Linked DNA regions of Homo sapiens. Each later gene encodes a partner of the first gene's protein in a complex. Each region holds a gene or a part of one and is shown in the gene's direction. Other genes may lie near its edges. The genes, in order: UBE3A and PSMD4.

Region 1 (4,131 bases):
CATATTACTGCATGCAAAGCAAGTCTTTGTTAACCTTATGACTTGCTCAGGAAGCAAAGTGTTTCATGTCCTAATAGGATAGTAGTATTTTCTGTTATGTTACATTTTAGGAAATTAGGAGTTTTGCATTGTCTTGTAAGAAGGTATTTTAAAAATTTTCAATGAAAATAATGAGAAATAGGTTTCCAGTGGTTTTATGCTTTTGGGGAAGAGGTTACTGATGTTTAGCAAAAGATGCTTATATATTCTTAATAGAACAAACCTGAGAATTAGTTCTTAAAGAGTTAAGGCCCATAAAAGAAACTGTAAGTGTTGGTACTCTTGTAGCTGGGCCACAGATCAGATCCTTAGTATGATAAAATTTGGTATTTTTGTGCTTCAATTTTTGGAGACCATTCAATGATCACTTACATTTTATATTGTCTTTCATTGTGAAACATATATTATAGCAGAGGTGGGAGTCATTAAAAATTCTACATGTTGTACACTACATGTATAAGGGTATATTTGGCGCAATGGAGGTAGGATTGTCTGTGTGCCTCTAAAATTAACCTCTCAAGTAGTTAATCTGATGATGACAAGTATGTCACTTTATTGATAAAAGGGAGAATTAAGACTATTCTCAGTATTATGTTGGTCAGTACACAAAATATATCATTTGTTTTTACCTGTGAAATGAAATATCTTTCATCCTATTAGCCAGAAGGGAGAAAGCCTTGGCCTGAAAATAACACTTATCTCAAAAAGTTGGGAAATGTGGTCCAACTCTGTGCCCAGGAAAAGAGGAAATAGATTTTGATGACTACATAGTCTCTGCACTGCTTGCCAGCTCATAAGTTTACTTCTTTGCACTGTTTGTTTTCATTGCTCAAAAACTATTTTCTGTCACTCTATGAGATTTAGTCTAACCTGATTCCTGGCTGTGGAAAGCAGTTTCTACTTAAGAGCCGATGAGAAATGGTATATTCTTCTCAATCACTCACAGAATGACTACCCTGGAACAAACTAGGAAGACCCAAAATGAACCAGTTTGATTTTAATACATACATAGATGCTGAAGGAGCCTTTTTTTAAGACCTTGCCTTCTTAGTCTTTGGAGAACAGAGTACTGAAACAAGAAAACTCACAGATTAGTAGTATTTCTGTGTGTTCTACAGTGAGGTTTTAAGAGCTGTATTATGATTAATCAGTACATGACATATTGGTTCATATTTATAATTAAAGCTATACATTAATAGATATCTTGATTATAAAGAAAGTTTAAACTCATGATCTTATTAAGAGTTATACATTGTTGAAAGAATGTAAAAGCATGGGTGAGGTCATTGGTATAGGTAGGTAGTTCATTGAAAAAAATAGGTAAGCATTAAATTTTGTTTGCTGAATCTAAGTATTAGATACTTTAAGAGTTGTATATCATAAATGATATTGAGCCTAGAATGTTTGGCTGTTTTACTTTTAGAACTTTTTGCAACAGAGTAAACATACATATTATGAAAATAAATGTTCTCTTTTTTCCTCTGATTTTCTAGATGTGACTTACTTAACAGAAGAGAAGGTATATGAAATTCTTGAATTATGTAGAGAAAGAGAGGATTATTCCCCTTTAATCCGTGTTATTGGAAGAGTTTTTTCTAGTGCTGAGGCATTGGTACAGAGCTTCCGGAAAGTTAAACAACACACCAAGGAAGAACTGAAATCTCTTCAAGCAAAAGATGAAGACAAAGATGAAGATGAAAAGGAAAAAGCTGCATGTTCTGCTGCTGCTATGGAAGAAGACTCAGAAGCATCTTCCTCAAGGATAGGTGATAGCTCACAGGGAGACAACAATTTGCAAAAATTAGGCCCTGATGATGTGTCTGTGGATATTGATGCCATTAGAAGGGTCTACACCAGATTGCTCTCTAATGAAAAAATTGAAACTGCCTTTCTCAATGCACTTGTATATTTGTCACCTAACGTGGAATGTGACTTGACGTATCACAATGTATACTCTCGAGATCCTAATTATCTGAATTTGTTCATTATCGTAATGGAGAATAGAAATCTCCACAGTCCTGAATATCTGGAAATGGCTTTGCCATTATTTTGCAAAGCGATGAGCAAGCTACCCCTTGCAGCCCAAGGAAAACTGATCAGACTGTGGTCTAAATACAATGCAGACCAGATTCGGAGAATGATGGAGACATTTCAGCAACTTATTACTTATAAAGTCATAAGCAATGAATTTAACAGTCGAAATCTAGTGAATGATGATGATGCCATTGTTGCTGCTTCGAAGTGCTTGAAAATGGTTTACTATGCAAATGTAGTGGGAGGGGAAGTGGACACAAATCACAATGAAGAAGATGATGAAGAGCCCATCCCTGAGTCCAGCGAGCTGACACTTCAGGAACTTTTGGGAGAAGAAAGAAGAAACAAGAAAGGTCCTCGAGTGGACCCCCTGGAAACTGAACTTGGTGTTAAAACCCTGGATTGTCGAAAACCACTTATCCCTTTTGAAGAGTTTATTAATGAACCACTGAATGAGGTTCTAGAAATGGATAAAGATTATACTTTTTTCAAAGTAGAAACAGAGAACAAATTCTCTTTTATGACATGTCCCTTTATATTGAATGCTGTCACAAAGAATTTGGGATTATATTATGACAATAGAATTCGCATGTACAGTGAACGAAGAATCACTGTTCTCTACAGCTTAGTTCAAGGACAGCAGTTGAATCCATATTTGAGACTCAAAGTTAGACGTGACCATATCATAGATGATGCACTTGTCCGGGTAAGTTGGGCTGCTAGATTAAAAACCTAATAATGGGGATATCATGATACAGTTCAGTGAATTCATTTTAAAAGTGACTGAAAAAAATGATACCATATAGCATAGGAACACATGGACATTTCTGATCTTATATAAGTATTATACTTTTGTTGTTCCTGTGCAAGTTTATAGATGTGTTCTACAAAGTATCGGTTGTATTATATAATGGTCATGCTATCTTTGAAAAAGAATGGGTTTTCTAAATCTTGAAAACTAAATCCAAAGTTTCTTTCATTCAGAAGAGAATAGAGTGTTGGACAAAGACCAGAACAAGAGAAATGTGGAGATACCCAATAATAAGTGTGGATGTGCAGTCTTGAACTGGGAGTAATGGTACAGTAAAACCATACCATAAAATTATAGGTAGTGTCCAAAAAATTCCATCGTGTAAAATTCAGAGTTGCATTATTGTGGACTTGATGAAGTGACCATGGCAGATCAGTGCCTGTTGCCAGTAAGAGTTGAGTCCTGCTGGGCCACTTAGAATATCCCTGTGTGGACGGCACTGCCTGGCTGTGGTAGTTTCTTCCCACTTAAAAATTCATAGAGACAACTCTGGGTCTTGGAACTTCTGGAAAACAGCAGCTATTCCAAAAATCTGGGGATTAGTGGTGCCTGTAACATCAAGTCCAGGGAGATTGAGCAGGGAAATACTGGAAACTCAGGTACTCATCCTAACTTCCTGGTTTTCCAGATGGGGTTGCCATTTGTTCCTTTTCTTTCCTCCACAAGATAATTTTAGTGTATCTGTTTAAGAATATAAGAGTGGCCAGAAGACAGAAAGCAGTCGTCAGTCACATTTCACCAAAATTTACATTTGTCTCAGGTGCATTATCGCAGAGCTTTATTGTATTTCTAGTATTAGCTATCCCTGTCATTGCTGCTACTTTTTTATCATCTTCAAGTAAAATTTAATGTCAACAAAAATTAAGGTAGTTAATAATACTATAGTATACTAGTAAAGTTGTCTGACACAGACAACTAGGAAATGTGATTTTTACTTTAAAATGTATTTTAGTTTTAGAATGTCTAAATTTTAGTTTTAGAATTGTCTAAATTCGAGAATTCATAAAGCTGTAGCCCGGTGGAAAAAGTTATTTGACATCTCAGAAATTAAAAATTGCAGAGATTTTGTGTGTTTTTTTTTTTTTTGTTACTGGTTTGTTTTTTTTTTTTAATGTCAGATATGTTTATAGTGTTGGAGAAAGATTCTGCATTATTTAAGCAACTCAGGTGGTTTTCTAGCAGAGACAAAAGGGGGCTTTAACTGCCTGAAGTCATTATTATTGCTTGCTTTCTGGTACCCTTTTTAT
Region 2 (3,600 bases), on another chromosome or scaffold:
GTACACATAACCCAGCCTCAATAATTATCAACATAAATAAGACCAGCGTGGCCGGGTGCAGTGGCTCAAGCCTGTAATCCCAGTTTTCGGAGGCTGAGATGGGAGGCCAGGAGTTAGAGGTTGCAGTGAGCTATGTATGATTGCACCACTGCTGCACTCCAGCCCAGTGAGACCTTGTCTCTTTTGTTTTACTTTGAGACCCTGTCTCAAAAAACAAAACTATTTGTTTCTTCCAGAGGATTAAGTTAAATCCCAAACTTCATATACTTTTTTTATCTATGAATACAACATATAACCCTTAATAAAGCCTACTTTTATAAGGGTGATAACTTTAACACTATTATCATGCCTAAAAAAATTGCTTAATATCAAATATCCAGCTGATGTGATGGCTCACGCCTGTAATCCCAACACTTTGAGACTTTTTTTTTTTCAGAGATGGGGTCTGGCTATGTTGCCTACGCTGGTCTCGAACTCATGCGCTCAAGCCATCCTCCCACATCAAAAAATTAAAAACAAATTAGCTGGGCTTGGTGGCATGCACCTATAGCCCCAGCTACTCAGGAGGCTGAGGCAGGAGGATGGCTTGAACCCGGGAGGTGGAGATTGCAGTGAGCCGAGATCAGGCCACTGCACTCCAATCTGGGCAACAGAGCGACACCCTGTCTCAAACAATAAAACTTTGTAGAGACGGAGTCTGGCTGTGTTGTCCAGGCTGGTCTCAGACTCCTAGCCTGAGTTGATCCTCCTGCCTGGGCCTCCCAAAACGCTGGGATTATAAAACCTAAGCCATTGCATCAGGCCTTGAATGTAATTTTTGATTAACCAAAACGGTTTAGTGGTTTGTTCTTTGGCAGATTAGTTAATATAATTGAGTTGTCAAATCTTTTCCGGGCTCTGTACTGGGCTTAGGGAATTGTAAAGATTAAGACACGTTGCCGGCCAGGTGTGGTGGCTCACGCCTGTAATCCCAGCACTTTGGGAAGCTGAGGTGGGTGGATCATCTGAGGTCAGGAAATCGAGACCAGCCTGGCCAACATGGTGAAACCTCGTCTCTACTAAAAATACAAAATTAGCCGGGCATGGTGGAATGCCCCTGTAGTCCCAGCTACCTGGGAGGCTGAGGCAGGAGAATCCCTGGAACCCAGGAGGTGGAGGTTGCAGTGAGCCGAGATCGAGCCACTGCACTCTAGCCTGGGTGAAAGAGCGAGACTCCTCCGTCTCAAAAAAAAAAAAAAAAAAAAAAAAAAAAAAAAAAAAAAAGGCACGTTGCCCACCCTTAGTTAAACGAGGGAGGAGATAAATATACAAATAAATTCAATTGAAGGGTATAAGGGCTTGTTGAATTAAAATTCTACAGGGAACTGAGGGCTGTAGAAAGTCATTAGCGATCCCGACACTTTTTTTTTTCTTTTTTTGAGACGGAGTCTCACTCTGTCCCCCAGGCTGGAGTGCAGTGGCGCGATCTCGGCTCACTGCAATCTCTGCCTCCCGGGTTCAAGTAATTCTCCTGCCTCAGCCTCCCGAGTAGCGGGGATTACAGGCGTGCGCCACCATGCCCGGCTAATTTTTTGTATTTTTAGTAGAGACAGGGTTTCACCATGCTGGCCAGGCTGGTCTCGAACTCCTGACCTCGTGATCCGCCCGCCTTGGCCTCCCAAAGTGCTGGGCTAACAGGCGTGAGCCACCGCGCTCGGCCGATCCCGACACTTTTTTAAAATGCCGAAGCCGGAATCGACACAGCACTTTCAAAGGTTCCTCCATAGCTCCCCTGAGATCCGGCCAGCGGGAAACCCCAACTGAGAACTGCAATGGCAGGGAAAGTGGAGGCTAGATCCTGTTTTTTGTGTTACCGCGATTCCCTTCAACTACCCTCAAGACGCCTACAAATTTGTTTGGCGGCACCTACAACTCCCAGAACGCAACGTGGGGGACGGAGGCGGAAGCAGCTGGCCAAGCCGAGGTCTGTGATTGGTGAAGAGCGACGGGCCAATTGGAGGAGTTGTTGTTAGGCCGTCCCGGAGACCCGGTCGGGAGGGAGGAAGGTGGCAAGATGGTGTTGGAAAGCACTATGGTGTGGTGAGGAGCTACTTCGGGGCAGGAGGGGCAGAGCTGGGTTCCGGGCGCGTGTAGCGCCAAGGCAGGGAGGGCCTGGGGTGGGGGCCAGGGGCTCATGGGCGAGAGGCGGCCCTGGCCCCGGAGGTAAGGAGCCCGCTGGACTCCCTGAGTCATCCCGGGGCCCTGGAGTGGCGGATAGTCCCGGGTTACCACTGTTACCCCCAGGGGGACGGTCATTGACTGGTCATTCCTGCTTCCTTTCTCTGTTCTAGCGCCGTCTTCTCTAGAGCAGCCCGGGTCTGTCTTTAGCTACAGTTCTGCTTTTCGGACTCATCGTAATAGTTTTCTGCCCTCCTTTCTTTGCAAAATAACGTCTATTAGGAAAATAGATTATTAATCCCTTCCTCTCCCCATTCCCTCGTCTCTAACTTCATTACCTTTCCCTGTATCATCTTCAAAGGTACCATTTACAGATTGCTTTTTATGTATCAGTCATTTTGTTTATCTCACTTATACCTCACAACCACACCTTAAGGTAAATTATCTCTCCATTTTACGGTTCAGGATACCGAGTCTCAGCGATTTTAAGTGATTTGTCCAAAATCATACAGCTAGTTAAGTGGTGGAGTCAAGATTTAAACCCACGGCTGTCTGACACAAAGGCTTTATCCGGTGAGGTAGCTCTCTTTGTCAGTTTCAGGCTTGGGCTGAGTACCTATTACGAGTCACATTAGAAGAGGAGGACATAAATTTTTGCAGGGTTTCAAGAGTTCCTTCTAAGTGTAATCACTGAATGTAATACAGAATAGTTGACGAACACAAATCACCGATTGGGTGAAACAGGCACCTATGAGATTTCTTCTTTTTATTTTCTCGGGGGAGCATAGCATTGCCAGATAACATACAGGATGCCCAGTGAAATTTGAGTTTCAGATAAACGATGAATAATTTTTTTTTGAGACGGTCTCGCTCTGTCTCCCGGACTGGAGTGCAGTGGCCCAGTCTGGCTCACTGCAGCCTCCGCCTCCCTGGTTCAAGTGATTCCCAGTGATTGAACTAATTTACACTTGCACCAACGATAGAACAGTGTTCTCTTTTCTCGCAACCTTGCCAGCATCTGTTATTTTTTTAGTTTTTAGTAATAGCCATTCTGACTGGTGTTAGGTGGTATCTCGTTGTGGTTTTGATTTATTTGCATTTCTCTAATGATCAGTGATATTGAGGTTTTTTTAATAGGCTTGTTGGCTGTATGTATATCGTCTTTTGAAAAGTGTCTGGCTGGGGCGTGGCTCAGGCCTGTAATCCCAGCACTTTGGAAGGCTGAAGTGGGTGTATCACCTGAGGTCAGGAGTTACTGACCAGCCTGGCCAACATGGTGAAACCCCATCTCTACTAAAAATACAAAAATTAGCCAGGCGTGGTGGTGGACGCCTGTAGTCCCAGCTACTCCAGAGGCTGAGGTGGGAGAATCGTTTGAACCCCGGAGGTGGAGGTTGCAGTGAGCCGAGATGGCGCCACTGCACTCTAGCCTGGGCGACAGAG

Evidence for each region.
Region 2: the proteins of UBE3A (region 1) and PSMD4 are in contact, whole or in part, in an NMR structure (PDB 6U19), measured with the Homo sapiens proteins. Residues at the interface, in NP_000453.2 of Homo sapiens: Lys25, Arg26, Ala27, Ala29, Lys30, Ile33, Glu34, Tyr37, Asn65, Asn66, Ala69, Ile70, Leu73, Tyr76, Lys77; in NP_002801.1 of Homo sapiens: Glu323, Asp324, Tyr326, Val328, Met329, Asp331, Phe334, Leu335, Val338, Leu339, Asn341, Leu342, Pro343, Gly344, Val345, Asn349, Ala351, Ile352, Ala355, Met356, Leu359, Gln362.

The regions. Positions count from the first base shown.
Region 1 is NC_000015.10:25,369,214-25,373,344, reverse strand, and holds part of UBE3A (ubiquitin-protein ligase E3A), read left to right. Parts: intron 1-1,532; coding exon 1,533-2,779; intron 2,780-4,131. UniProt on the Homo sapiens protein: E3 ubiquitin-protein ligase which accepts ubiquitin from an E2 ubiquitin-conjugating enzyme in the form of a thioester and transfers it to its substrates.
Region 2 is NC_000001.11:151,252,730-151,256,329, forward strand, and holds the start of PSMD4 (26S proteasome non-ATPase regulatory subunit 4), read left to right. Parts: upstream 1-2,004; 5' UTR 2,005-2,053; coding exon 2,054-2,079; intron 2,080-3,600. UniProt on the Homo sapiens protein: Component of the 26S proteasome, a multiprotein complex involved in the ATP-dependent degradation of ubiquitinated proteins.